5 linked regions of the Homo sapiens genome follow. The protein of the gene in region 3 interacts with the protein of the main gene of each other region in a pairwise test. Each region holds a gene or a part of one and is shown on either strand. Other genes may lie near its edges.

The links.
Region 1: the proteins of SLC34A2 (region 3) and STRIT1 interact in binary tests that used the Homo sapiens proteins (3 or more experiments, as listed by UniProt).
Region 2: the proteins of SLC34A2 (region 3) and AIG1 interact in binary tests that used the Homo sapiens proteins (3 or more experiments, as listed by UniProt).
Region 4: the proteins of SLC34A2 (region 3) and RTP2 interact in binary tests that used the Homo sapiens proteins (3 or more experiments, as listed by UniProt).
Region 5: the proteins of SLC34A2 (region 3) and SLC30A3 interact in binary tests that used the Homo sapiens proteins (3 or more experiments, as listed by UniProt).

Annotation. Positions count from the first base shown.
Region 1 is NC_000003.12:155,290,123-155,296,387, forward strand, and holds STRIT1 (sarcoplasmic/endoplasmic reticulum calcium ATPase regulator DWORF), read right to left. Parts: upstream 3,562-6,265; 5' UTR 3,511-3,561; coding exon 3,498-3,510; intron 917-3,497; coding exon 822-916; 3' UTR 818-821; intron 725-817; 3' UTR 105-724; downstream 1-104.
Region 2 is NC_000006.12:143,329,039-143,334,759, forward strand, and holds part of AIG1 (androgen-induced gene 1 protein), read left to right. Parts: intron 1-4,243; coding exon 4,244-4,407; intron 4,408-5,039; coding exon of another isoform or gene 5,040-5,057; exon of another isoform or gene 5,058-5,352; intron 5,353-5,721. UniProt on the Homo sapiens protein: Hydrolyzes bioactive fatty-acid esters of hydroxy-fatty acids (FAHFAs), but not other major classes of lipids. Show a preference for FAHFAs with branching distal from the carboxylate head group of the lipids.
Region 3 is NC_000004.12:25,667,769-25,673,489, reverse strand, and holds part of SLC34A2 (sodium-dependent phosphate transport protein 2B), read right to left. Parts: intron 5,611-5,721; coding exon 5,499-5,610; intron 3,844-5,498; coding exon 3,648-3,843; intron 2,753-3,647; coding exon 2,657-2,752; intron 1,890-2,656; coding exon 1,769-1,889; intron 404-1,768; coding exon 236-403; intron 1-235. UniProt on the Homo sapiens protein: Involved in actively transporting phosphate into cells via Na(+) cotransport.
Region 4 is NC_000003.12:187,698,181-187,704,452, forward strand, and holds RTP2 (receptor-transporting protein 2), read right to left. Parts: upstream 4,378-6,272; 5' UTR 3,949-4,377; coding exon 3,785-3,948; intron 832-3,784; coding exon 318-831; 3' UTR 79-317; downstream 1-78. UniProt on the Homo sapiens protein: Specifically promotes functional cell surface expression of olfactory receptors, but not of other GPCRs.
Region 5 is NC_000002.12:27,255,161-27,260,813, reverse strand, and holds part of SLC30A3 (probable proton-coupled zinc antiporter SLC30A3), read left to right. Parts: intron 1-1,879; coding exon 1,880-2,061; intron 2,062-2,483; coding exon of another isoform or gene 2,484-2,506; coding exon 2,507-2,653; intron 2,654-2,755; coding exon 2,756-2,909; intron 2,910-3,461; coding exon 3,462-3,660; intron 3,661-3,920; coding exon 3,921-4,026; intron 4,027-4,293; coding exon 4,294-4,428; intron 4,429-5,353; coding exon 5,354-5,502; coding exon of another isoform or gene 5,503-5,653. UniProt on the Homo sapiens protein: Probable proton-coupled zinc ion antiporter mediating the import of zinc from cytoplasm into synaptic vesicles and participating to cellular zinc ion homeostasis in the brain.

The sequences.
Region 1 (6,265 bases), on a different chromosome or scaffold from region 3:
ATTTTGATAGATATGTACTGCCAAACATCCCGCAAAATGTACCATTTTGAATTCCCAAAGACAATGTATGAGAATGCCTAATTGCACACAGTCTTACCAACTCATATGTTGTCAAACATCTTTATTTTTTTCCCATCTGATAAGTGAGCAACAATTCCTCAGTGTAGTTTTAATTACATTTCTCTTTTTGTGAACAAGAGATTAAGTAAGTGTACTTTTACATTATATGTTCTCTGAATTGTCTGTTTTTATCTCTAGCCCATTTTCTTTCTTTTTTTTTTTTTTTTTTTTTTTTTTTGTAGAGATGGGGTCTCTCTCTGTCGCCTAGGAAGGTCTCCAATTTCTGGGCTCAAAGGATCCTCACAAAGTGCTGGGATTACAGGCATGAGCCACCTTGCACAGCCTCAGCCCACTTTCTCTATAGTTTTTTCCAGAGGGAAGGGGGGATAATTTTTTGTAATGTGATTAAATTTATCAAACTTTTTTTAATGACATGCATTTTTCATCACAGCTAAACATTTTTCTCACTCAGAATATAGAGAAATTCACTCATAATTTCTTATTGTCCTGAAGAAATTCTTATGCATACCAAAGTGCCAGTTTATGATCCAAGTTTGTAAAGTGATGTCAAACATTGCATTGTTTAACATGAGACATTTAATAATCAGTCATGTTCATAGTTTTCTTAATTCTTCTAAATGATGTCAATCTGATATCTTCTTGCCTGAAAGACAAAACATTCCATTAGTAAAATAGAAAAGATTGTTTCTGGAGTAATTTAGACTATAAATAAACATTCAATTATTAAAACCCTTACCTTTCTAAGAGAAGACAACATAAATCATTATGATGCAGCCCACAATCCAGCCAATCAGGAGAAGAATAGGAACCAGAAGGTGTGAAAATGTAGACCCCGCTTTAAAATAAACCGTAGAAAACAGATTATATTGGTCATTTTCATATTAAATTTTCTGTGTCAAGAGAATAAAAGGAATTTGGTAACATTAAGAAAAAAGCATACACTCTCTAGTTATACCCATACATAATTATTTTTTCTTTTCTACAGAGAATACGTGAGACTGTCATAAACCCTGGGTATTTTGAATCAAACCATGGGTCTTTTACTGTTATGTGACCTTTGGCAATTCTGGGCTTGAACTTTCCTACTGGTAAAATATGAATAATGAAACTTGTGCTCTCTACCTCCTGGAATAGTTTTGAACATCAAATGACATAACATATGTGCAAAGCTTTGTAAACTCTAACCACCGTGTGTGTTTAGTGTATACAGAACACATTCATGCATTTGTGCAATAACATATACAGCAGCTATTTATATAAAAAACAATCTAATACAACTCTGAGGCAATTCCCACTAAAGTAAATAATTATAACACAAGGAAAGGTATTGAGAACTGTCCTTGGCCTCAATAGCTGAATGTAATTTTAAATATCACAGGGAAAAGGAAAGTATCATACATTATGTAACCATTCTTGACTACAGAAAAGAATTTCTATTGTTTAAAAATTGTTCAGTATAACAACCAGCACTGAACCTGAATCAATGGGCAGTAATAATCCAACACACACATAAATGGCGTTTGTTATATATGATTCCTTCTGTGCCTCCTATTTGTACTCTTACCTGTAAAAAGCAATTTATACAAGTATCTTTTTTAAAGTATGCACTGCATGTAACTCTTGTTCTTTCAAGCAAACATACACAGGCATACACACAGAAATCCACACCTACATCACACAAAAAGATTTAGAAAGAGCGCAGAAAAACATTCTATGGAATTAATGTCCCTGTGTTAAGGACTCAGATATATTCTTAACTGCAAAGCATAATTAGATCTTATGCCATTAGTTAAAAGAGAGAATGCATATTCTTAGCAATTATACTCCTATTACAATTTCCATCACTTTAAAATGTGAAATTTTTAAAAATGCTATTAAAATAAAATCATCAGGAGATGAGACACATTTAAAATTAGAAGACACTTTTATAAAAGCAAACTTTCTGAAGTTGAAATAAATTTTAATACTTTAAATCAATTTTTCCAAGAATGCTAGAGTCTCTCTTAACTGACAAAATTCAACATGCTTTTCTTGTTTCTCCATCTCACTGTGACCTTGTATAAGGCATTAAGCACTAAATGGAAAACTCTTCTCTTTACTTGACATGTGGTATTGCTTAAGGATAAAGCAAACAACATGAGTTGCCCTTTACTCTCATTTGGACGAAAGCCTTTTTATGAATTAAGGTACCATTACAATGGAAGTACATAGCAGTAATTTTTTTGAACTGTCTAGGTATGTGGCTTTATATTTTTCCCAATTTCAAAGAATTTGAAAATTAATATTAACCCTTTAATTGTGCATTTATATTTTATACATGCATATTTTAATAAAATTTACATATCACAAAGCCCTAAAAGTATCTCATTATTTACTTTCCTTGTAAAATAGTACCAGTAGCACTAACTGTGCATTTTAACACCCAAAGTATACATTCCATTGTTTTTTTAACACTAATGTTTTCAACTTTACTAATACCTGTGGAATTGTTTGGAAGTAGAAATACGTAAGAGCACAACATACTTTGCATATGTCACTTACATTACTAGCACAAATAAGAACAAAACATCTCTTAAACATGAAGTGTAATTCTAAAATGCTTCTCTCTTGTCCAGTTCTGAGCATATCAAAGTAGTTACAGCTGGAAGTGTTCTTGAGGACACTGTGCTCTGGAAAAGACTGTCCAGGTTAAACACCTGGTGCCACCACTCTTTAGCGATCATGAACAAGTTACTAAACTGCTGTGTCTCCATTTTCTTATCTATAAAATGGGGATGATGATGATATGCATATTTCACAAGGTCATTGTCAAGATTCAAAGCAAAAATTCCTGTTTAATATTTAAAAACCATTTCTTAGATACAGTATATATTCAACTTTTTGACAAATTGGAATCAATTATTTTATATAACTATAAAATATAAATACAAAAAAATGTTTAAAAACCAGAAAAAAGTTAGATGTGGAACAAAAATTTTAGGTGTGGAATAGATGCCTGAGCCCAATATTCTCATTTTACTGTCAGAAAACAGACTCAGAGAGGTATAGGGACTTCTGCAAACTCACATAGCCATTTACTAGCAGGTCTGACACAGAACTTAACTGTCTTCAATTCTGGCTCAGAATTGAAATCAGGAGAACTGATTTCTAACTCACCTTTCAAAATAAGTATTAACAAAATTAAGCTCTTTTCCTTTGTTGATCATTTTAAAATTATTCATAACCTATAGACCTGATCCATAGATTACATAATTAATGCATTTTTGCAGCCACACTAACATATATGGTTAATGGTCATTTAGCATAGATATCACATTTTTTAGAGTGACTGGGAAACACCAAGAAACATAAATGAACCAAAGTCAAGAAGCCTTTTTTTTTTTTTTGCCAAGAGAATCCTATGCCTTAAATCTTACCTTTTTCAGCCATTATTCCTGTTGGTGGGTGGCTAGGTCAGGCCACGCTTACCTCTTTCTTTTGTTATCCAGCGTCTCTTTGAACTTTAAATAGAGAGAAATCTGAAGATTGCGGCAGCTGCCCGTCTCCTGGCTGCCAATTGTCTGCAGAGTGATGTAAGTCATGGGAAAGCAGAACTCCTCTGGCTCTTTATTCTATTATTATGGAGGAAACGAGGGGCTACATGACCTAAACAATTAGGTAAGCTGAATTATCCTAATGCAGATATTCGCAGGTTTTTAATTTGCACCATGCCTTTAGGTAACATGAAGAAAATGTTCTATAAAGAAGGTGTACAGAGGAAAAACAACATTCCACCTATACAAGTGCTATCAAGGAGAAGGGTGATATATTAGAAAGAAAGGATTTTGATGTTGGAGAGACTTGGGTTCAAATTCCAGCTCTTTCTGTAATGAAAGCCAAGTTGCTTAACCTGGGAATCAGCTTCTTTAGTTTTAAAATGAGGATAATAATACCTACTCATGGGAGTCGCATAAAGATGAAATGAAAGTCTGTATGAAATGTAGACAGTTCTTTATTACTTTACAGGTGGAAAACATAAAATGAAATGGTGCCCCTTTCTTTGAACTATTCTAAAACAAAAAGTGTTAATATAAATGTACTAGAAACTAAAACAATACAGACGTCGCCTAGAATTTTTAGGAAGCAGTCATAAGCTTGTTGTTTTTATTAGCAATGTATAAAAATAGGACATTTCATTTTTCAAAGTCCAAACTGGTTTATGTAACTGACCTAGACTATTCTCTATATTCTCATTGGAATAACTTTAAATTGGGGATCTGGCTGGAAAAGTTTTGCAGAGTGACCCTGTGAGCATCTTCCCAAAAAAAATTTGACATAAGATTAAGACCTGTAAAGGCAGGTCTGGCCTGATCAAATTTATCTCCACAGAGTTCCAAGAGTGATATTGCCTTGCAAATGACCATGTTCCATCACTGCTCAAAAATCCACCAATAGTTCTTCATCTCCTAGACAATAAAAATCCCAACTCTTTGTTTAGACACCTAAAAACCCTTATTTCTCTACTCTTCCATTTGCAGTGATAACTTCAGTGACACTGAACTCCTTGCTATTATATGAATTCAGAATCCTCCCACTCTCACAGGCAAGAAGAACATTTGACTTTCTACCTCAAATAATGTACCTATAGATTAGAGTGTGCAGCCAAGAATCTGGCACATTTATATCATTTATGTCAAGTTGTCATCTCTCTCCTCAGTCTCTCTCTCAATATATTATTTAATATTGAAAAAATGTCTGGCTATGTCAGGTAAGCAGAAAAACTACGTATTGTTTATGCAACAAAATCCCTTGCTTACCTGGCAAAGTTGGGTATTTTTTTCAATATTAAATAATAATACGTTAAACAAAGGTTAACTGAGGCCAAAAGAGAGAGAAGAAATAAAAATGTTATTGATCTCATTTAAATATAAAAAATGTTAATTCAGTAAGTTCAAATGAACACTAATTATCTTAAGGAAAAAAATGATATTTAAAACAAACAGTGTGGTACCCACAAAGAGCACAAACATACATAATAAAATAAAATAATTTGCCTGAAACATATGAAAAGGTTTCTACATTTTAAATACTCATTTCCATTTCAATTATATTAAGCTTTCTTCTTGACATGAAATTGACTATTATTAACATTATTGCTGTCAATTTGGAGTTTGAGGAGGGATTAGTTTATAATTCATCATTTATTTTCCTTACTTTTCTATGGAAAGAAGAAGAGAAAAAACTAACTTAATCAACATGAATTTCTCAGACTTCAGAAAAGAATTCAACCTAGAATCTCATTTCCTTGGTTATATCATCAGTAAATTTTTTAAAAAATATAAGTTTTATAATATTTAATCAGGAAAGGATGTTTTATTCATTAATAGACTGGTTTCACTTTGAGCTTATAAACCCAAGGGCCTATATTTGACCGTTTTCTAATCTTTCTCTTAGGACATACTAATTAGGAACATTTTCTACTTTTTTACTTTACATACTGTCTTAAACATTTAGCTCTCAAATCCCTTATTCTCAAGGTGACATTAGATTCTTCAGAGATATGTGAGCCGAAAAATTTAAATATTTGGTTTTTCTTTAAAATATTTAAGAATTCTTCACTTTTCAAATATTTTTCACTACTAATGTCTGGAATTATAGTACATAGACCTGACCATGGTGGATGCTCATGGATCTTTGCTTCATGGCTGGCTGACTGGGTAGGTGGATGTAATAAGTGCAGTATAAGGTAGCTTAGTTTGCACTCTAAACAAAGGTTTACTTATGGCAATACCTAAAAGAGTAATAAGAAATAAAATGATCTTAACTATACTCTAGCCTTATAATATATGCATATATAGATAATACAGTGTATTTAATTACCAGTAACATTAGAATAATCTATAAATAAGAATATAAACAAATAAAAGAAAGTGACATCTGCAAAAATAGAGGAGTGGGGGACTCCAAAATATCTTTCCTTCATAAGAGCACCAAGAAAGCCATCTAAAATTTTTGAATCAATTTTTAAGAATTGTAGAAATTAACCAAGGACTTACAGCAACTGGGGGAGCTGGAATCTAGGTAAGAACAGCAAGAGTTTTGTGATGTTTTAATTTGGCCTATTCTCATCTCCCCCATCTCCAGCTTTGTAGCAGCCTTAAACAATATCCCAAAATCTCAGTGAAAACTAGCAGACTAGCAGCCA
Region 2 (5,721 bases), on a different chromosome or scaffold from region 3:
GGAAACAAATGGTGAAAGCACAACTTGTTAAGACAAGTGGATGCATCATTCACACTGATCCAGGTGAAACCCCAAATAACAGGATTTCTTTATCTGAGATGGTTTGATGACCTAACAAGTTAAGAAAACCAAACCAAAACAAACAAGAAACGCTCAATTCCATTTTGGAGACAATATTGAATGCCTCATTTAGGGAAGCAAGTCCATGCAGCAAAAAAGAAATCAGATGTGCACTTCTTTCCCAGCTTTGCCAGTTTTATGATAAGTTCTTTAGTCTGATCTCAGTTTCTTTACCTGTTTAAAGAGAATAATCATACCTAATAGGGTGGTTGTACAAAGTAAAGGAGATTACATCTCATGTTTATAAGCACCACACTCAGAAGAGCTGTCTGCTTCTCTGCCTCGTAGGTTGCAAACCTGAGAATTTCACATTACATTAGCAGCTCTGACATAGTCTCATTTATACCCTATAAGCTCTGATTCATACAATAGTACGATGAGAATGCCATGCTATATCTAGAATTGCTGAGAAGACTAGATGACATTGTGTGCTGAAGGAACTTTGTGAAATACAAAGAACTACTTAAACAAGTAGTCAGCAGATGACAGCCGGTGTGCCAAATCCAGCCCACCACCTGGATTTTTGTTTGTTTGTTTGTTTTATGACTCAAAAGCTAAGAATGGTTTTCACATTTTTAAATAGTTGAAAAAATCAAAAGATGAATATTTCATGATGTGAAAATTACATCTAATTCAAATTTCAGTGTCTATAAATAAAGTTTTATTGGAACACATCCACACTCGTTTACATATTGTCTATGGCTGCTTTTGCACTACAATGGCGGAGTTGAGTAGGTGTGATCGAGACCATATGGGAATATTTACTATCTGGTTCTTTACAGAAAAGGTTTCCCTACTCCTGACTTAAATTAAATATAGTGACAAAAAGCATAAAGATTTTGGAGGTTTTTTTTGAGATTAAAAAAAATTCATAAGTTATTGGCGAAGTGCCTGCCATATAGTAATGGCTCAATAAACAGATGTTGCTGTTTATATTCCTTCATTAGATTATTAATTCAACAAATAGTTATTGAGTGCATACTCTGCCAGATACTGCTCCAAGAACCACAGAATACAGCAATGAACATAATTGGACAAAATTCCTTTGCTCATTGAATAGACAATAAACAGACAAATAAAAATAAGTAGAGTATATTATTTGGCTGGGAGAAAAAATAAAGGATGAAAGAATAGAGAGTTTGAGGGTAGAGGTTGCAATTTTTAGATACAGTGGCCAGGGAAGACATCACTGGAAAGGTGACATTTGAGTGAAAACCCGAAGGACACAAGGGAGCCCAAGGGGATGCTGTGGGGGTGGTGAGGAGTATTGTTCTGGGCAGGGGAATAATACAAAAGCCTGGAGGCAGAGAGAGCTTAGAGTGTTCGAGGAACACCAAGGAGTTGATGGGCTGGAGTGGCGGGGAACGATGGGGAGAATAACAGGAGATTAAATCAGAAAAGTGCGGGGTAGGGCCTTGAAGAACCATCTAGGGACTCTGGCTTGTACTCTGAGTGGGAGAGGAAGCAAGTTTTGAGCAGAATAGTGGCATGGCCTGACTCACATTTAATCCAGATCCATCCGACTGCTCCAGTGCAAACACCCTGTAGCACAGACTGATTAAAATTTTATAAGTTGATTTGCAACATCAATTACAGCTTAATGGTGTTAAATTGGGGGAATATTGCATATTCTCTCCATGGAAATTAATAAACCATTTGATGGGTACACAGCACCTTCCTTACATTATTTAAGACAATGTCAGAATGATGAAACTGCTTCTAATTTATGGACAAACAATATGATATCTCAGAATCCCACAGGGTAGTTCTAACCATTTAATTTCTGCGGATTCTCACAACTGCTTCAGCTTTTCTAACAGAATCTTTGGACTAACATGGCCTCTTTTTTTGATACAAATATTTTTGTTTGGACAGTGATTGAGACTGACCTGGACAGACCTAGAGAATGCCTCTTTGCTGTAAGATTGTTCCTCAATCTTTCTTTCATTACTACTTCCCTCTACCAAGGAACCTTTGTAGACCTGTTTTTTTTTTCCTAATTTCCACCACAGGAACATTTTTTATTGTGCTAAAATATACATAACATAATATTTGTCATTTTAGCTATTTGCAAGTATACTATTTAATGTCCTTAAATGTATTTACAACATTGTGTAACCATCACCAGTATCTATACCCAAAATTTTCTCATCATCCCCCCACATAAACTCTGTTCCCGTTAAACAATAACTCCCTATTCTCCACTCCCCCGAGTCCCTGGTAACTGATAGATACCATGCTTTCTGTCTCTGTGAAATTGCCTATTCTAGGTACCTCATATAAGTGGAATCATATACAATATGTGACCTGTGTCTGGCTTATTTTGCTTAGCATAATGTTTTCAAGGTCCATCCATGTTGTAGCATGTATCAACATTTTACTCCTCTTTATGGCTGAGTAATATTCCATTGCATGCATATGCCACATTTGATTGTTTGTTCACCTACTGATGTGTTTCTATATACATATATGTACATCTGTGTGTGTGTATATATGTGTGTGTGTATATGTGTGTGTGTGTGTATCTGTGCTTTCTACATAAAAAGTGCAAAATTGTTTTACCACCAACCCCAGAATGAATTTTCGCCTGCAAGAAGAGGGGGGATCTCACCCTCATTGATAACGCAGGTTCTCAGGTATAGATCCCCAGGTTTCCTGCCAAAAATGAGGTACATGTGTAGGTAATGTTTATTATTATTATTATTATTATTATTATTATTATTATTATTTTGAGACCAAGTCTCACTTTGTCACCCAGGCTGGAGTGCAGTGGTGTGATCTCAGCTCACTGCAACCTCTGCCTCCCAGGGTCAAGTGATGCTTGTGCCTCAGCCTCCCGAGTAGCTGGGATTACAGGCGCGCACCACCACGCCCAGCTAATTTTTGTATTTTTAATAGAGATGGGGTTTCGCCATGTTGGCCAGGCTGGTCTTGAACTCCTGACCTCAGGTGACCCACCCTCCTCAGCCTCCGAAAGTGCTGAGATTACAGATGTGAGCCACTGCACCCTGTCAGTAATATTTATATGTAGATAAACCACTTAGAGTGAAGCCAAGGATAAGGAAAATGACCTCAGAACACATAAGTATGAAAAGTCATCTTTATTCCCAATGCAATAGAGTTATCTGTATTTTATTTAGTCTTCACAATTGCCAACAGTTTATAAAGGAATGAACTCAAGAATGTTTGGAAAACAGCTGTAAGCAGTCATGTCAGGACCAAGCCAATGGAGCCGATATTCTAACTAAACTTTTGAAAGCAGTGGCAATTCATGATGTTACTATTCCCACTGAGTCAAAAATATTTCTGGAACACAAAGAGAATGATTAAGTAAGAATGTAAAATAGGAAAAAAAATGAAATCAATGTCACATCTGAAGATCAGAGGAGTGGGAAGCTGGTACCTGCTAGGGTATGCATGGTTGTGTCAGCATATGGCATGAGTGTTGGTGTCTAGTTGGAAGGCCATATGGCAAGGTATCTGGCACAGACTCACCTAGGTCTTATTCTCCTGTGGTTGCCCAATGCCATATTGTCTCATTCTGTAAAGAAGAGATTTAAAAGATTGTTGAACAGTGTTAATAAAGTCAGCCATTTCAAATACATGACCAGATTGTTTAACAGTGTTAATAAAGTCAGCCATTTCAAATACCCTTCAAATATCATCAAAGACAAGTAGAGACTGAGAAACTGCCAGAGTATGAGACTGCGGAGATGTGAAGACTGAAGACCACATGGGGTCCTGGATTGGATCCTGGAACAGAGAAAGGACATTCACAGGAATACTGGGAAATTCTGAATAAAGCCTATAATTTAGTACTGTCATATCAATGTTAATTTTTTAATTTTAGTCAATTGTCCCAGGATTATACAAGATGTTAACATGAGGGGAAGCTGAGTGTGTTGTGCTTCTTCTGTGAGTCTAAAATTATTTCAGAATAAAAAGTAAATGAAAATAAACAGCAACCAAGTTTCCAGTAGCTCCTGAGTATCAGAAGCGAACTTGAGACTGGCAAATGCTGAAGCATGGGGAGAGTGAGGGAGTGTATATTTGCATCATAGCAGCTTTGATGCCTGCCATAAGAGTGACTCCTGTCCTTGTCTCCTTTCCGATTCTTTTGCAGGGTGTGCTGGGTGCATCATGTAACTGGCATGTGGGTGTACCCTTTCCTGGAACACATTGGCCCAGGAGCCAGAATCATCTTCTTTGGGTCTACAACCATCTTAATGAACTTCCTGTACCTGCTGGGAGAAGTTCTGAACAACTATATCTGGGATACACAGAAAAGTAAGTATTGTCTGAGGGAACATAAAACAAGAGAATTACTGCCGGCAACAGTCTATGCAGAGACTGAGGGAAAATTCCACTGTAGCCTCTTCTTTTAGCCTTCACACAGGATCTCCTATAAAGAGCTCCATTTTTAAAACTACAATATGAATTTAAGAGCTGCTGACAGTTACCTGAAAGTTTTACTAGTCACTTGGTCTTGTTAGCTAGTAAAACCTCCAAATCTAAAGAGGAAAGAGGCATGTCTATAAAATTTTATAGGGAAAAATGTAGTGTTAGCAAAAAATATATATTAGGGAAATTTGTCCTCATTAACAACACAATGCTGCCTTAGTTAGCTAAAGGGACCTCAAATTAAATAGATACATTATTAAATGTAACCAATCTCCTTTAAAGTCACCCAGATCTCCACTTTCTATGTGGGTGCAGTCACCTGGGAGAGGTCTTACTACCATTCTGCTAGAGCTCTATCTAAGCAGTGTGTGATGCTCCGGCCACCTTGACTCACCAGTGGCTGTCACGGAAAGTCTGAAAGTGGCAAAGAGCTACAAGCAGTAAAAGATAATATTTCGTGGCTGGAAAAACTCTTTTAACCTGTGATTTGATTTCTCTTTTGTTTCCATTTATGGCAGAGCCTCCATCTTGGCAAGGCACGTAATCTTATCCAAGCTGTGCAAAACCTGTCCAAAGTGTATGTACAATAACATAAAAATTGAAAGGTGGAAAAAGCGCCAGCACAGACATGTAGTGATTGAGTCCTGCATGAAAATACATCCAAAGGCAAGATGGTTTGGAGATTTTAGGAAGCCCTGGCTCTTTCCTCTGACACAATCACAGCATTCTAGACATCCCCAGTAAATGGACTCTGTGACACAGACATTGAGCACCCTGCTTTGTGCCAGACACCCTGCCAGGAGCTCAATGGAATCAGACAAATAACGCACAGTGAGTGCATGGTTACTGTGCATGGTTACTGAATCAGACTTTTGTGTGTGTGGATCCTCTAAGATTGTATGTGTCAGGGTATTAGCCAATGTTAAATGGCGCAGAGGAATTTGAGGGTTTCTTTTCTCATCAGCTTTTGATTTTAATCAATGTTCTATTAGAAAAAGTATCAACATTTTTAATTCTGTTCAGGCCACAGCTTGGGGAACAAGACACTAATCTTTTAATAATGTTCCACCTGTTCAATGGAAATAGTGATCTTTCTCCATTAATTTACAGAAGTATTTAGTTACTTGACAAAAATATTTTGAGAACAAAATATAAACCTTTCTCAGCTTCTTGGAAGAAAAACTGTATTTAAACTTAAAC
Region 3 (5,721 bases):
TATGAACTCCTGCTCAGGACCTTGCCAAGATGCAATGGAAACTTGGGCCTGCTCCCTAGACCCCACCCAGGATGCCAAGAACATTTCCAGGTGAATGACATCCTCACTTCTGGTGCTGATCCAATCTGAGAGAGAAACTCCATGCAGAGGCCATTGCTAGATGGGAATCTAAAGGACCCCCACACCCCATGCAGTGACTACATGTGAGGCCTACAAGTGAGGGCAGTGTACCTACCAGTGTTGATGGTCTTCTTGATGACAGTGGCGACCTGCCCCTTGAGCACAGAGCCCAGGATCTTGACAATCATGATCAGGCAACCACAGAGGACCAGCAGGGAGAGTATGAGCAAGATGGTGCCCACAGCAAGATCCGGGAGGTGGAAATTCACAAAGATATGCTGGCCTGAAAGACCACAAAGAATCTTGTCAGGAGGGCATGGAGCCACCACGGCTACAGATTGTTATTTATTCCCCCAGATCCTGTCTTTCCTACAAACAGATTCCTGGTTGTTAGTTTAACAGATGGCAGCCCCAAATCAAGACAGCCCTTCTCAGCCTCCTTCGCAGCAAGGGGCACCACTGAAACTATGTCATAATCAGTGGGATCGCATGAGGCTGGAAGATGAAGTGATGGCTTTAAAAATCACACAACTGTTCAGGGGTAGACTCAGCCCAGTTCTGTCTCTAAAGACCATGCTGTCGATGGTCTAATTTTTTTTTTTTACTAATGATAAGTATGCTTTGAGGGATTCGATGGGCAAGTCAAAGTAAGGGGCATTGCTAATTATAAAGCCCCTTCTGCATCCCCCAGATAATCCCAGCAAAACATGGTTATATGAATGAATGTATAGTGCCTAGAATGTGGGAGGTGGTAAGTTAACTTGATTCTTTGGGGTAATCATACCTAGAGTATTAAGATATAGTGCTCAGAATTAATGTGGTGGGAGGGTGAGAAGAGAGAAGCAGAGATATACAAAAGTATATGTAAGGAGTAATTAGAATAACGAAGGATGGCTGGGTTGGAAAAAACATTACAGCTTCTTAATAATCAGAGCATCATGCAAGCTCACTGCCCGTTCAAGAGCTACAGCCCCAGTGCCCTGAAATGGGGCCTGCTGTACAGTAGGGACTAATTGAGTGAATACATCTGTTCTATGTGGGTCCCACATCTTCCTTCAAATCGGGTTGTCGTCTCCCTAAAGTTATTTTATTTTGAGACAGACTATCTCCCTGTTGCCCAGGCTGGAGTGTAGTGGTGCAATCTTGGCTGGAATTATAGGCTTGAGCCACCATGCCTACTTTTTTTGTATTATTTTTAGTAGAAACAGGGTTTCACCATGTTGGCCAGGCTGGTCTCAAACTCCTGGCTTCAAGTGACCAGCCCATCTCGGCCTCCCCAAAGTGCTGGGATTATAGCCTTGAGACACCATGCCTGGCCCCTAGAGTTATTGACTAAAGGAATCTGAACAAAGCATGTAGAGGGAATCCTCTAGAATCTGTTGAGCTTTTCTGAGGTGGTGTGGAGCTGGCAAAGGAAATGGACTTCAAGTTCCAGTTCTGCCCTTGCTGTGGGACCTCAGGCCTGTCACCTCAGTTCCTAAGCCATAGTTTCCTCTGCTGTGAAAGCATGTTGCTCACTGCTTGATGTAGGGCAGGTGCTTGGTGACTCCTACTGTCCTTTCCTTCACTTACTGGGACTTCACACGGATAAATAGGTCACCCCCAGACAACACCTGTCATAGTGGCCAATCCACTGAGCTCCACTCACATTTGGCGATGTTCTCCTTGTAGGTCACATTCTTCATGGTCCAGTTTTGGATGCCATCCGTCCAACAGAGGGAAGGGGAGGTGCAGTTAGCAGTCGAGGGAACAGTGACGTTAATCTGGGTCTGGATGACAAACATGACAAATGCCCACAACACTGGCTTTTAGTGGGGAATGGGAGGCAATGGCGGGGGTGGGAATGAACAGGCGCAGACACCACCCATGGTGCATGCAGTATGGCCCCAACAGAACAGTTCTTTTCTCTTGAAGACTTATTTCTCACCTTTATTAGAAATCTTAGAATAACTGAGGACAACTGAAATCAGCCTTCATCATTTAAAAACATCTACTTTGTTTATTCTAGTCTCCAGTCTTTAGCACCCCACAAAAAAAATACATGTACACCCCAGAAGCAAGGGCAAGCCACAACCCAGGTGCAAAGCAGCCTGGGTAGGTTCCTGACAGAGGGCATGAATGCTCTGGGCCCGAGCAGGGGGAATACTCTGGAAAAGTCTGGAAAGTAAGAGAGAGGACACTTGCTGCCAACACCCGTAGGGCGTGCTGGACTACTTCCACAAGTCTCTCCAAAAATGAGAACAGAGCGGCAGGCAGAGCTAAGCCTTCTCCAAGAGGCATGGAAATAACAAACCAGAAATAATGTATCCCTGGGATGGGGCAAAAGGGAGTCTGTCTGTCCTACTGTTTACCTGCATTTGGCATTCATTCAAGGACTTGTTTTCTAAAGGCATTCACTGGTCACTTTTGATTTTTCAGGGACTCCCAATATTTCTTTCCCCTGACTTTCTATTTACCTTCCTTGAAGGCAAGATTTAGTTTCATGTTCAGATGCAAAGGTTCACTCCCCGCCCCGGGAATATTCTTGGAAACGTACCTTGTTGGTAAAAGTTTTGCACCAAATCTTGACAAGACTCTTGTTTTTCGCTTTTTCATCGTTCATTGCAATTTGGCTGATAACTTTTTTATCCAGCTGTGGAAACAGTAGACAGGAAACCATCAGCATATCCTCAGAACCGATTTAGGACACAAACCCAGGGGGTTGAAGTGAGAGGGGCTCTAAGGAGATAAATGTGACTGTGAGCCCCCAGAGAGGCAAAGTGGGACTCACTCTATCTGCAGAGGCACTGATATCTAGGGAGCAGACAGTAGATATTTTCTGGATGACTGAATGGCCAAGAAAACCAGTAAGAGTGAAAACACAAGGTCCTAGCAAGGACCCAGGGAGAAGGGGCTGAGATGACTCTAGGCAGGAAAGGGTAGATCATACTTTATCAAGTCCACTGGTGTTGAGGACAGCAGTGGGAACAAAGTGGTCTCAAGTGTCCAGTCTTAAGAAGCACCTCCACCCCAATAAAGGTGGCATGTTATGGAAGTCAAAGTAACCATCAAGGTCAGTCACTCTATCAGGTGGCCCAAAAGTTCTGCCTCCCTTGGCCTTTTCCAGAGGCAGCTACAGAGTAGTGTTTATTCATCTATTTATTTTTTAAAAACAGTCTCACTTTGTCACCCAGGCTGGAGTGCAATGGCACAATTCTCAGCTCACTGCAGCCTTGACCTCCCGGGGTTCAAGCGATCCTCCTTTCTCAGCCCCCACATAGCTGGGACTACAGGTGCACGCCACCATGCCCAGCTAATGTTTTGCATTTTAGTATAGACAGGGTTATGCCATGTTGGCCAGGCTGGTCTCAGATTCCTGACCTCAAGCAATCCACCTGCCTCGGCCTCCCAAAGTGCTGGGAAAACAAGGGTGAGCCACCATGCCAGGCCCAGAATAGTGTTGTAGACACTCTATATCTGTCAGCTCAGGTAGGGGATGTTGTGGGTAGGAAGTTAGTCTCCTTCTCTCTCTGAAGGAGCTAAGTTACCTGGACAATGAGCTTTGTGAAGGGCTTAGTGATGACTTTCAGAAGATCTGGGGCATCTTCTCCATTCTTGAAGTGGAAGCTCTCCACTATAAGCTGGGTTATGATCTCGAGGTAATGGGTGGCCACCTCCACGGGCAAGAGCACCAACACGGACAGCCAGTTGAAGAAGTCATGGACAGTGGCTCCTGCAAAAGCTCTATGGGAGGGAAACCCCGACAGCCAGATTAGTCACTAAGCAAGTGGGCACCATGTGAGGTGGGTCATTACCTGTATCATCTGCCACCCTCTGCTAGGTGTCACCTATGGAAGTGTGCACATGTACACAATCTCATTTTTGTTCTCTCATATCGATCCCCAAAGTGGCTGGTATCTATATTCCCATTGGCCAGATGAAGAAGCTGCGGGCCAGCAAGCATGTTACGGCTGGAATAATTAGCTCAGCAATCACTGTTTCGAAGAATTGCATCAAGGGCACTTTTGTATCATGTATATTGAAGGCTACCTTCTTTTGGAAAGGTGGGGACCAGTATGAAGGCAACCAAAGCCCTCTATGCTGGAGTTTTCAATTGTTCCAAACACATAGAAATCATAAATCCCCAAAGCGGTGGGCACCTCAAATACCCTGATTTGATCACTACACATTCTATGAATGTAACAAAATATCACATGTTTCCCAGAAAGGTGTAAAAATATTTTGTATCAATAAAAAAATTTAACTTAAAAAGACCTCTATGCAAGTGAATTCTTAAACTTTTTTTAAGTTCTTGAAAGTGATGAAACATGAATAGTTTCCATGGGAAACAAGGCTAAAACATTTTGCATCCATCTGAGGAGGTTCAAAGATTCCTCCTCGATTCCATCTTATCTCCAGATTTAAAAAACTCTGTTCTGGATTTTTATGTCTTCAATGAAACAGCTTACCTTTTAAAAAAAAACTGAAAAAAAAAAAAAACTAGCTAGAAGAGGCTAAGAAACACTTAATTTTCACATTAACCTTTTTGAAAGAAAAGAGTTTCCAGCATTCTACCTGCTCTAGTTTCAGAGTTTCTGCATACGCAGAAACTAGGTTTTGTTTTTTATTAACTTGTAAGTGAAGAACAAAGAAAAGGTGGCATGGGTTGAGCTGACCGAAAGTGGAAGTTTAAATAAGTTATAATTATGACCAAACAAAACAGTATTTATTTATTTTTTTTTTTTTTTTTAGATGGAGTCTCACTCTGTCACCCAGGCTGGAGTGCAGTGGCACGATCTCGACTCACTGCAACCTCCGCCTCCCGGGTTCAAGCGATTCTCCTGCCTCAGCCTCCAGAGTAGCTGGGATTACAGACGCTGGCAACCACGGCCGGCTAATTTTTGTATTTTTAGAAGAGATGGGGTTTCACCATGTTGGCCAGGCTCCTGACCTCAGGCGATCCACCCGCCTGGGCCTCCCAGAGTGCTGGGATTACAGGCATGAGCCACCACGCCCAGTCCCAATAAATCCTACTCTTCTAACTGGCCTTGCTTCAATTCCGCCACCCAGCGGCTAAGTTTCTAGCTAGAGTTTGCATTTATTTAGTGAACTCAATGTGCTGGGTGCTCTGAACACTCACCTGCTGGGTTGTATATTTAATCCTACAACAACTCAGTAGTGATAGATAGTATTATCCCTGCTCTGCCGATCAGGGAGCTGAGTCTAATCAGCTGGTGAGTATGTGATCCAACCCTAGCCATACCTCCCTGTGGTTACTTCTAGGAACTCCAGGAATGAACCTGATAAGCATGTCATCTTTGGCTGGTTAAAAGCAGTTACAACAGCGTGGCCAAGAACAATAGAGCTGATGTCGCAAAGGCTGGTTTTGAGCCTCTTACCTTCTGAACTCACTCCGATCTCCCACCTGCATGAGCGCAACAATAGTGTTGGTGATTGACGTTCCAATGTTGGCCCCCATGATAATGGGGATGGCAGCCCGAACAGTGAGCACTAGAGGATGGAAAAGTACCATTAGCAAGCTTAGAAAGGCAGCCTGGAGGCAGGCTAAAGTTACCTATGCTGGTATCCTCTAAAGAAGTAGTTTTTATCCTCTATGCAAGT
Region 4 (6,272 bases), on a different chromosome or scaffold from region 3:
AAGGAGAGGTAGAGATGGAGGTGGAGGAGAGAAAGGAAGCAGGTCCCTCCTGTTGACCTAGTACTAGCACCAATCCTGGCAAGCTCTAAAACCTTTATTACACCCTTTTCCCCTTCCCCCAATTATTGTCACATCCAGTGAAAGAATCATTGCCTATCTTCTAATGCAATCCTCTCATTCCGCAGATGCATTAACTGAGGCCCAGAGAGGTGACCGGATTGTCCAGTCATATGTTGAATCTGTAGCAGGATCAAGTCCAGACTGTGTCCTCCCCACTCTCAAGCCCATGTGCCCTCTCCCACCCTTAACCAGCTCCACTAAAAGAAGGCAGGACTGAGGAAGGAGAACTGCAGGTAAACAACGAGCAGGCAGAGAGAGGCCCAGAAGAGGCACCAGCGAAGAGACAAGAAGTTGTAGCCGGATCCCGCCTGGGCCCTCGGCTTGGAGGCTTCAGAGGTGTAGGTGGTCACCTCCTCCTCCAGCAGCTTCTCGCTGGGCTTCCAGTGAACGATGCCCTCCTGGCAGGCCTCACAGAACTCTGCACGATGCGGCCCGCTGTCCGGGCGGCTGGCCACGTGGATGCGGTACTGGCCACCATCCTCCTCGTAGCACTGCTCGCGCAGGCTGGTGATGAGGTTGTCCACCAGGCCCTCGATGTTCTCCTCCAGCATGCTGGACTCGTCCAGCCGCGCCGTGCCGCACTCATAGCACAGCTGCTTGAAGACGCGCATGCGCACCGAGCCCGCCCGCTGGGCGCGGTCCAGGAACATGTGGAAGAGGATGACCACATGGGCAGACTGCCAGGTGTGCCAGCACCAGGAGCAGTGGAACCTGCCGGGAGGAGAAGGAGGGGTGGAGAAGGTGGGCATCCCAGAGAAGCCTGCCCTGAGAAGCTCTGAGAGGGAAAAAAAAGCCTGTGTGCCCGTGCTTGGAGATGGAGGCAGTGTTTACTGCCCTGTGGATTCATTAGCACTCCAAGGCCGGCCTGCTCTCGCCTCCTCCTGGTGAGCACCCCTGGGACCCGAGCAGCATCCTCAGGAGCCAGTGCCGGAGCCATCTGGCATCCAGCAGTGCTCTAGAGCGTGCCTCCTGCGGTCTCAGCTGCCCCCCAGCCCGATGCACTCAAGGTTGCACCTGGGCGCTGTGCAGGGTCATCCCCCCCTCTCTGGGCTTCATTTCTCATTTGTGAAATGTAGTGTGTTGGCGTCCAGTAAGGGTCCTTCCTCTGTGACCTCCTGCGACTCTAATAAGAAGGATGACATACACCATCTAACTCATGCATCTTGCTTACTTTGGGGAGAAGAGACGCCTCTAACTGTGCCAAGCACAGACCCTGGCACACTGTAGGTCCTCAGTAAACCACTGAGAATGATGGGATGGACAGACCGGTAGATGGGTAGGATCAACTGGCTTTTAGGAGGAACTACCAAGTTTAGTTACTACATCTTCACAAAGAACACTCCCCAGTCTCTTGACAAGTCTTCTCTAGATCCCACTCTAGCCCTGCAGTGGGGACTGGAAAAGAGGGTATTCATTCCCATTGCCACTCCACACACACACACACACACACACACACACACACACACACACACACACACACACATATATTTTCTCTCTCTCTCTTACATGCACAGAGGCCACTTGGCGTAACCTGGGCTTTCTAGAGTCCCAGTCTCAGGAAGTGTTGTGGGTGGTAGCCTGGGGCTCATCTAGGCAAGCCCCACTCACTCCGCCCCCACCACTGCCTGCACACTTTCAGTGATGCAGCACTCCTGACCTCCAGGGCAGTTCTTTCCTTCCCTGAGATGAGCCTCTTCCAGGCCTCTGTTATAGAGGCTTCACAGGCAGTCAGATGTCCACTGGGCTGTCCCTGTCCTCATCACTGGCCCTTTCTGGATCCATTGTATGATGGCCTTGAAGGACTTCTGATTAGGAACTCAATTCAATCCAACAGACACCATTCAACACCTCCCATATGCCAAGCACCACTCAACCCAGGCTATGGGATAGAGGTGAGGCCAAGCCTGGCTCTGACCCCTGAAAGCCTGATCACATGAGCATAGAACAGTACCCAGAATGGCCCAAGGTGGGGTTGGCAGGTCAGAGGAACCTAGCTGGTACTGAACCAGGAGAGGTTCCCCGCCCCCAGTGCTGGGTGAGAGCTGCAGGGCATCTGCCTGTTTAGAGACAGAGTGAGCCTGTGCACAAATAAGCTCATGGGCAGCAGTTCTTCAGCTCTTCCTGAGGCCAGCTGGGAGCCACAAGTCACCAGCCAGGAGTAAGAGGAGCTGACCTCTGAAGCAAGAGGAGACATGAGCTTGCTGAGCTCAGCCCCGAAACTCTGGATCCTGGGCACTCAAGTTTCCAGGCATCTGCACCTCTTCCACCAGGCAGTTCAAATGCTTTATGTTTTCAGTCTCCTTCTACACCTTTTTACATCAAACCAACCCAGAATTGCTTCACCTACATCAAGTTAGGCCTCACATCTTAAATTCAAAAATATCAGATCTGGGGGCAGGCGAGCTTAAGAAGCATCTAGTCAGCCCTTTATTTCACTGAGAAGAGACAGAAGCCCAGATAGTAAGAGAGGCATCCATGTACACACAGCTAGTTAGAGGCAGAGCCAGTGCTCAGCACATAACAGGTACCCAATAGATGCTTCTTGAGTTGATGGAACTGACATGAATCAGCCAACCTCTGGTTTTCTGTCTTTTTTTCACAAGGCAGGTTTACTCCAATAATTCCAGGTCTTGGGACAAGAGTACAAACGTAAGCTCCCTACCCACATCTTGCCTCCTCTGTTCCCACCCTCAGCACCATTCTGCACCATGAGAAGCTTCACACACATACACGTGAACAACCCAGCCTTTGTGTCCATGTTCTGGCTACATCTCCAGAGCACAGCCACTTACTGGCCTCTCTTGAATCCAAGGACACAGGAAAAAGGCCTGCACAGACACTACAGATGGACTTGAGGTAGTCTGGGGAGGAATTTCTGTAGTCCCAGTCCCCAATCATGATCTAAAAGGAGGAAAGGCATGTGGACTTTAGACGGCCTCGTCCCCTTGGCCTCAAGGACTCTTTGCCCTGTGGTAGATGTGCAGCTCCTATAAAGAGTGGGACCCTGGGCTCTAAGTTCCTAAAGAAAGTTTTGCTCAAAGCTAAATCTTTTTATCACAGGTGCATAGATAATAGAGCTAGAGTGGATTGGATCTATTATCTAAGACCAACCCCCTCATTTTGTAAATATAAAAACTGAGAGCCAGAAAGGGAAACAGACTTGCCAAGTTTACAAGGCTACTTAGCTATATAGAGCCAGTTCGTAGCACACAGCAGGTGGTCAATAAATGTTTATGTATTCAGATCAAATTGGATTAATTCACTAAACATATCTAGGAACAGAGCATAGCTGTACCCCCTGCATTCCCCCAACTCCTAGATTAAAACTTTCCCCAATGGACCTCATGGCCTCCTTCCTTCAGTTCCAACTCACTCTAAATGTCAGAGATTGCAGGGACATAGATGATATTACAGCTCTTCATTTAATGTGGACAACTAAGACCCAAAGATGGAACATAACTTTCTCAGGGTCACCCAGGGAGTTAGTGGTATTGCTAGGATTAAAAGCAAGAACTCTCTGACCCAGCCGGCTGTCTTTGTCTTTTTCCCCATCTGAGCTGACACCAGAATAAGCCCGCGACTGGGCTCTGTCTCTCCTTGGAAAGTACCCCACAGCTGTGACCCAGGGGCTGTCTGCAAGGTCCCTCCCCACTGAACCTCTCACCTGCCTGAGGCGTGCTGCTCCAGGTACTGCTTCCAGCCAGGGGCCAGCTCACTGGGCTTGAGGTTGGGGTCTATGATGAGCTCCCAGCTGTCCGCTGGCTTTGCCACCTCCATCTTCTCATAGAAGACTTTCTTCCACTCACAAGTGGTCAAGCTGGTACACATGGTCCTGCTGGCAGAGGTGGCAGTTCGAGCTCAGCCCTGGTGAGAACACAGAAAGAGCACGGATAGGTACGGGACAATTCAGTGTCTACGGTCAGAATCCTCATCGGCAGGACTGGGAGTAAACAGGACCCAGCTCCCTCCTCTGTTACCCTGGAACCTGTTACCATGGTAGCCAGGCAGGGCACCAAGAGTGAGGGCTGGGGAGAAGGGAAGCCCCAAGGGGGAGTTTCAGGGCCCTGAGTTAGGCTTCAGAGGCAGCGCTGGGTAGGCCTGAGAGGAGCAAGCACAGTGGGAGGCCCAACCTCAGACCACACTCATCTGGATTTCCAGAGGTCTCCAGGAGGCAAGGACTATTTGGTGGCCCTGCTTCACCCAACTGCTCTTCTAGCATTCTCCACATCATGTGCTATGGTAAGTACGACACCCTAGGAAGTCAAGGAGAAATGAGGGACAGGGAAAGGCAGAGCCTGCTGCTTCCACACCCCCTGATATGCTGTGACCATCACTTACCATGTGCCTAGCACAAACCGCTTGACCTGTGTGCTGGCCAAAGCAGATCAGATCAGGAAACTGAAGTTTATGCAACCCCTAAGTGGCTCATCCAAGATTCAGATCTAGGCCTTCTGAAACCGAGCTCATTTGTTTATTTATTTTAGTACTATTGTGCTCCTAACAGGGAATTGAGTGAGAAGTAACATCTCTTTGCCCAGGGCAATCTTAGACCAGTTGGTGAGCTAGAATGTAATTTCATATGCCATGCAAAGCACAGTAATAACATTTCAGATTCATAGCGTCATAGAACTGTTAGAGCCCATATTCAGTTCCTGGTCCCAAGCCAGGCTAAGGTGGCTGCTGGGGTAATGAGTTTGTTCTGTGCTGCAGGCTCCTGCTGCCTCCATTACTGCTGAGCTGGAGCAAGAGAGCATCCGTAGCTCTGTGATGCCCAATTCAAATTCTTTAGAAACCAGAGGGGAATCTGACTTCAAATTTGGTAATCCAAGTGAAGACACGGTTACCTGAAGGGAGGCTGCCTTGAGCATGGAAAAGACCAGGCATATGGCTGCTTACCCTAGCTTTGGTCCAACTTCCAACTGTAATCATCTTACGATTCTTTAACCCGGAAGTCTGGATCCCTAGACACGCAGAGTTCCAACAGTAAAGAGCTTCAAGAAGTGAAACAGGTTGCTAAGAACCGGAAGCTCTTGGTGTTGAGTTGCCAAGTGGTTTTCAGGAAGTGTGAAGTCAGGGACAATGTCACTGGATTCTCTCTTGAAATGAAAAGTGTTACTCTAGCGGCTTTGTGCTAAAGACCTCAGAAAGGACACAATTGTCTTTGAACCATTGACTGACAGCTCTAGAAGAGCTCTTTTATTTTTAAAAATCTGGTTTATTTCTTGAACTCTTCATTTCTTAACCAAAATTTATTGACATTGAATTAAAACAACTGAGGCCTGGAAATGGAAAATTACTGGCCCAGGCTCTCAGGACTGGGTAGCTCAAACCTCACTGGGGATTCCCTTAGAAGCCAGTTACCAGACCAGGTGAGACAGAGGGATCCATGAATGGCCAGGAACTGAACGAAGCTGAGATGAGCTTATGGCCTGGCCTAGACCCTCGTGCCAGGAAAGAACCTCTGAGAAATAGTATACCCTTGTTCCCAGAACAAATGGCAATAAAGGAAAAACAGAAAGAGGATGAGAATTGTCAGGGTTTACCTGTATTTTCTTTTTTCCTCAAATAATGCAATCCCCTTAGGCCTAGTATCAGGTTTAATTTAGCATAGCAGCTTCTAAGCAGAGACCAATAGAATTCATCTTTCTGTGTAACAGCACTGTTTTCACTTTTCATACAATCAGTGAGCACAATTACTACTTCAATTTTCCGCGAATGACACTATCTTATTCCAGAACCCACGATTTAAGAGCTCACAAATGTATATTGTGTACAGCTGTGGCCACATCACACTCTGGCAGCTTCATTATACATATTTTGTCTAGGCAATACTTTTTCAAATAAAGAAATTGTTATTTCTTTATAAAATAAAATACTGAGCACCTGTATTCTGCAAACAAATCAGCAAGGGGGAGGGGATGGATAAAAGAATCACTTTTCCCCTTCAATTTGGAATGCAAGTTAATGAAGAGCTTTGTAAAATATTTATTATTCAATTTTACTTATTAGAGTAATGTAAGAAATGCCAGTGTGGAGCTTAAAATGACAAAGTAATGAAGAGTTGAAAAGGTGTGTACATCAAAATCACCTGGAGAGTTCTGAAAACTGTATACACCTCTGCTTCAGAGATTTCAATACATGTTCTTGAGGAG
Region 5 (5,653 bases), on a different chromosome or scaffold from region 3:
AGTCTTGGATGGGGCTTTGGAAATTCAAGAAATTAATCTACCAGTATTTCAGTTCTCTGTACAAGCACCAAATGTTCCCCCTACCTCCCTCAAAACTCAGTTCACCCACTTGGCAGAATTGTCTTTAGCCAGAAGGCCCCAGACATCCCGCCCCACTTTGCTGCTATGATCACATTTCTATCTGGAGCCATCGTTTTTACTTGTGGGTATTCTTGTCACACCTCCATGAGTATTTCTAGTACTGTATTTTCTATTCAGGTCCTGAATTCTGTGGAAAATTCTGTCCTTGCTGGGTTCAGGTTGGGTAGTGGTGGGGCTGAGAATTGGACCAGAATGGACTTAGCACTCAGCCTGACCTCACTCAGCCTCTGGCATCCCCAGGTGAGGTCCCAAGCCCCATTCATTTGTCAAGGGAGACTTATGGTACCATGCAGTTAAGGTGGGCTCTGCTGGGTGCTTATAGTCGGACTGAAGTCCAATTAACATGCTCCTCCCACTGCCATCCTCAGCCATAGCAGGCTGCACCCCTTCCTCCCATGACAACCCCAGCTCTGGAATCTAGCCATCAGTTCTCTGTGCCCGGAATCAGACTTTTTGGCCCCAATGTCCCGCTCGTCTCTTAAAGGGCCACACTTCAGCTTCATGTCTAGGGAGGGCGGGGGCAGGATCCAGGAGTGGAGGTTCTGGGAGGTGGGCCTGGAAAGGAGGCACACCAAGGCCAGGAACACATGCTGAGTCCCACTCCACACTTCACTCCACCTTCCCTTCATACTGCCTTGGCGTGCCTGGCATAGCATTCACCTGTCTTTATCAAAATCCTTCCCATCCTTCAAGGCCCTTCTCATGTTACCTCTTACAGCTGTTTCCCTGATTTCCTCGTTATAATTAGTCTGGCCCTCCATCCTCAGAACCCTGATAGCACTCTAACTGCCCTAATGACAGTGGCCACCTTCGCTCTATATCATTGTGTAGGTACATGCTTGCCCTGTTCACCAAAAGCTCTCAGAGATCAGTAGGAATCCTGCTCATTTTGGGGTGCCTAGCATAAGAAATTGGTTGGGGTCTAGTCTCAGCTCTAGCAACTAACTGGGTTGGCCTCCATGTGTCCCCCAACTCTGTGAGCCTCATGCCTCTAATTTATTTAATAAAATGTTAGATGAGAGCCGGGTGCGGTGGCTCACACCTATAATCCCAGCAACTCAGTAGGCTGAGGTAGGAGGATCGCTTGAGGCCAGGAACTCAAGTGTGCAGTGAGCTCTGATCACACCACTGCACTCCAGCCTGGGCAACAGAGCAAGACCCCATCTCTTTTTTTTTTTTTTGAGACAGTCTCTCACTCTGTTGCCAGGCTGGAGTGCAGTGGCACGATCTCGGCTCACTGCAACCTCCAACTCCCTGGTTCAAGTGATTATCCTGCCTCAGCCTCCCAAGTAGCTGGGATTACAGGCACGTGCCACCACACCCAGCTAATTTTTGCATTTTTAGTAGAGATGGGGTTTCACCATGTTGGCCAGGATGGTCTCGATCTCCTGACCTTGTGATCTGCCTGCCTTGGCCTCCCAAAGTGCTGGGATTACAGGTGTGAGCCACCACTCCCGGCCAACCCCATCTCTTAAAAAAGTTAGACTAGACCGTCTGTAAGGTGCTTTCCAGCTGTGAAATTCTATGGCTCTGTGTATGGAAGGAAAAGGGAGGCTGGGCTCTGACCTGTTCATTTAGCCCCGGTCTCTCATGTGGCCCTCTGCCGATGCAGCTCCCAGATACGACCAGGCCTGGGGAAGGAGATGGTCTGATGAGGCCAGCACTGGGGACTAAGGACGTGGAGTGAGCAGGCCAGCCTGTGGGCCAGGCCCAGGTTGAACCATGTTGCTTGCCTCAGTCTCTTCACAGAGCCCTCAGAGCCCCTCCCTGAGGAGTCCAAACCTGTGGAGATGCCCTTCCACCACTGCCACAGGGACCCCCTTCCGCCGCCGGGCCTTACCCCTGAGAGGCTGCATGCACGGAGGCAGCTATATGCTGCCTGTGCCGTTTGCTTTGTCTTCATGGCTGGGGAGGTGGTCGGTAAGTTGGGGAGCAGCCCTTAAACCCCATTCTCCAAATACCTGCCCAAGCCACTCTCCACCCAGAGTCCCAGGAATGTTCCTGGGTGCAGATGCAGAGATGGGGATGGCTGGGATAGGGGAGCTGGGTGCCCAGGACTCAGGAAGTAGGAGGGATAAGGGACAGCAACAAAGGGAATTCCAGCCGAGGTCCGGGGCCAGTAGGTCAGGGCTGACTTCTTTTAAAAACCCTATTTTCTTGTTATTAAAATAAATCATTGTAGAAAATAAAATACAGATGAATGAAAAAAATAACATAACAGTAGTTAATTATACCTGTAGTCCCATCACCTGAGAAAACCCCAAATCACATTTTTGGTGTATATCCCCCAATTTATTTTCCATGCCTATACACACTACATGATATTTTCTAAATGGAAGCAGACTCCATCATTTCACCCTGGCAGGCGGGTATCTGGCACACAGCCTGGCCATCATGACCGATGCAGCCCACTTGCTGGCGGATGTGGGCAGCATGATGGGCAGCCTCTTCTCCCTCTGGCTCTCCACCCGTCCAGCCACCCGCACCATGACCTTTGGCTGGCACCGTTCAGGTAAGGCCCCTGCATGGCCCAGTGACTCTCCAATCTTGCCAGAGGGCACCCGTCAGGGTCCCAAGCAGGTCTCTGACAGCTTGTCTCCCCCCCCACCCGCAGAGACTCTGGGGGCTTTGGCCTCTGTGGTCTCCCTCTGGATGGTCACTGGCATCCTCCTGTACCTGGCCTTCGTCCGCCTGCTGCACAGCGACTACCACATCGAGGGGGGTGCCATGCTGCTGACCGCCAGCATCGCAGTCTGTGCCAACCTGTTGTACGTCCCAGTATGGAGCAGGCACCTTGTGGGGCCCAGGGCGAGGGGTCTTCCTCCAGGATGGGAGAGCTGGCTCTCTCCTCCCCACCAGACACACAGACACGCACACACAGCTCTCCATGGGCTGCCCTGCGTGTGCCTGAGAAGGGTCTGGGATAGAGACCTAAAATTCAGTCAGCAGATCTCTGTCAAGGGCCTGCCATGGGCCAGCCACTCTGATGAGGGCTTTCATCAACATGATTGCATTTAAACCTCACAGCCACCCCATGAGGTAGGTAGCATTACCCCTAGTTTACCATTAATGCAGTCAATCCCAACAGGTGACTTGCCCAAGTCACATATCTATTTAAGTAACAGGGCCAGCTTCCGAATCCACATGTGTGGCACCAAGTCTGGTATTCTTTCCCCCAGGCTGCATTGTTTATCTCTCTTGCAAAATGCTGTTTTCTTCCAGGGGCTGGGAAAGGGCTACTGGGGAGGTGAGACATGGAGATGGGGGTATAGGAGGCCAGGAGCAGGGCCCTAGGCTGAGGTGCTCTGCTTACCCCTCAGAATGGCCTTTGTGCTGCACCAGGCTGGGCCCCCCCACAGCCACGGGTCTAGGGGAGCAGAGTATGCACCGCTGGAGGAGGGGCCTGAAGAGCCCCTGCCCCTGGGGAACACCAGCGTCCGGGCGGCATTTGTGCACGTGCTGGGGGACCTCCTGCAGAGCTTTGGGGTACTGGCTGCCTCCATCCTCATCTACTTCAAGGTACCATCATTGGAGACCTGCCCCAGCCTTCCTCCCCACAACCACATCCCAGCCCACTCCTTCCCAGGTCCCAAAGCTTCCTTCCTCCTCCCTCCAGCTCCTCCCTCCCACCTCCCAGGACTCTCCCAGACATGAGTCATGTTCCCTGTCCCCTCTTCAGGGTTTTGAGGGGCCTCTCAGGTCATGTTTGTTCAAGATACCCCTAGATCTTCCTCTGAAAGGTCCCTGGTTGTTGGGCTTAGGGGTCTCTTTCTCTGCAGCCTCAATACAAGGCAGCCGACCCCATCAGCACCTTCCTCTTCTCCATCTGTGCCCTTGGATCCACCGCTCCCACCCTCCGAGACGTTCTTCGAATCCTCATGGAAGGTGAGTCGGGCACCACAGCTCCCCATCCCTGTGGCCCTCTCTGACTTTACTCTCGCAGTGGGCCATCACTTTTTTCTTTGAAGATAGTACGGGAAGAAGGCTTGGCTCATGGGGTCTGCTGCTGGAACAAGGATTTGGGCATAGGGTGAATTGTAGGGGTCAAAAGGAGAGTGCATACAGGATAGGGGAGGTGGAATCCAGTGGTGGGGGTGCTGCTTCTGGGCAGGAGTAGCCCTAGCAGTAAGGCATGACTGGTGCTGGTTGCAGGTACCCCCCGCAATGTGGGGTTCGAACCTGTGCGGGATACGCTGTTGTCGGTGCCAGGAGTCCGGGCAACCCATGAGCTGCACCTGTGGGCCCTTACGCTCACTTACCATGTTGCCTCTGCACACCTGGCCATCGGTGAGTCACACTGGCCCCAGCTAGTTACTACCTGGAACATACCCCACCCCAAACATGGGACCATAGCTTGAGTTACTGGAATTGTTTCAGTCTTTTTTGATCTGTCTCTGTTTCTCTGTGTCTCTCTCTCTCACATAGACACATACACACACACACACATGCACGTGCGCTCGTGCATGTTGGAGACAAGGAGTCTCCATCCACTGGATGCAGTGTTCTGGGGGCAGTTTCACCCTCTTTGAAGTAGCACAGGGAACCAACAACCCTTTAAAAGATCATTAGTACCTACAGGTCTAGTGATGGGGCACAGTTAGGTAAATTACAGCACCTCCACCCTGAGGTATCACATAACTGTTAAAAATGATGCTTGTGAAGACTGTACAGCAACTATGAAAAATGTTTATGGTATAATGCTGAGAAAAAAGCTGAATATAAAATTGCATCTACATTATGATTCAACTATTAAAAATATATATGGTGAGTCATGAGCTGACAAAGGATTTTTGAGTTTCTTCCAGATGCAAGAAGCAATCAGAGTCATGCAATTTGTATGCCAAAAATATTATAATTTGTGGGATATTTGATGGAAACTCTAGAGGGACAATGAGACAGATATTTAACAACTGGATTGTCCTGGGAAATCGGGTGGTATGGCTGCTGAAATGTTGAGCTGTATGTTGACACTTAATGACAGGAGAGAATAGGAGACTGGAAAGAGTTTAGTGTGTTAGCATGGTTGATTGGGGTGAGTCTCTCCAACATTTGATTTGACACTTTTATGCTGTTCATACAATACAGAAAGAAAAGCAGGCTTCCATTCACGCCTGGCTTTAATGCTGTGCAGCCCCTTTCCCTGTCCTTATCTCAGTCCCTGCCTGTTCTTTCTCCCCCGGGATGGATGCCGCCTCTTATCACTCTCCCACAGACTCCACCGCTGACCCTGAAGCCGTCCTGGCTGAAGCCTCATCCCGGCTCTACTCCCGGTTTGGATTCTCCAGCTGCACCCTGCAGGTCGAGCAGTATCAGCCGGAGATGGCCCAGTGCCTGCGCTGCCAGGAACCCCCCCAAGCCTGAGCCATGGCCCTGCCCTCACCCCACTGCCAGGCCGAGGCTCAGCCCCAGACTCTCAGCATCTGCTGCCCTGATCACAGAGACGGGACCGAGCCAGGTCCATACCCCTTCCTCTCTCCCTCCTACCACCTGCCAGTTTCCCCAGCCTCAGCCC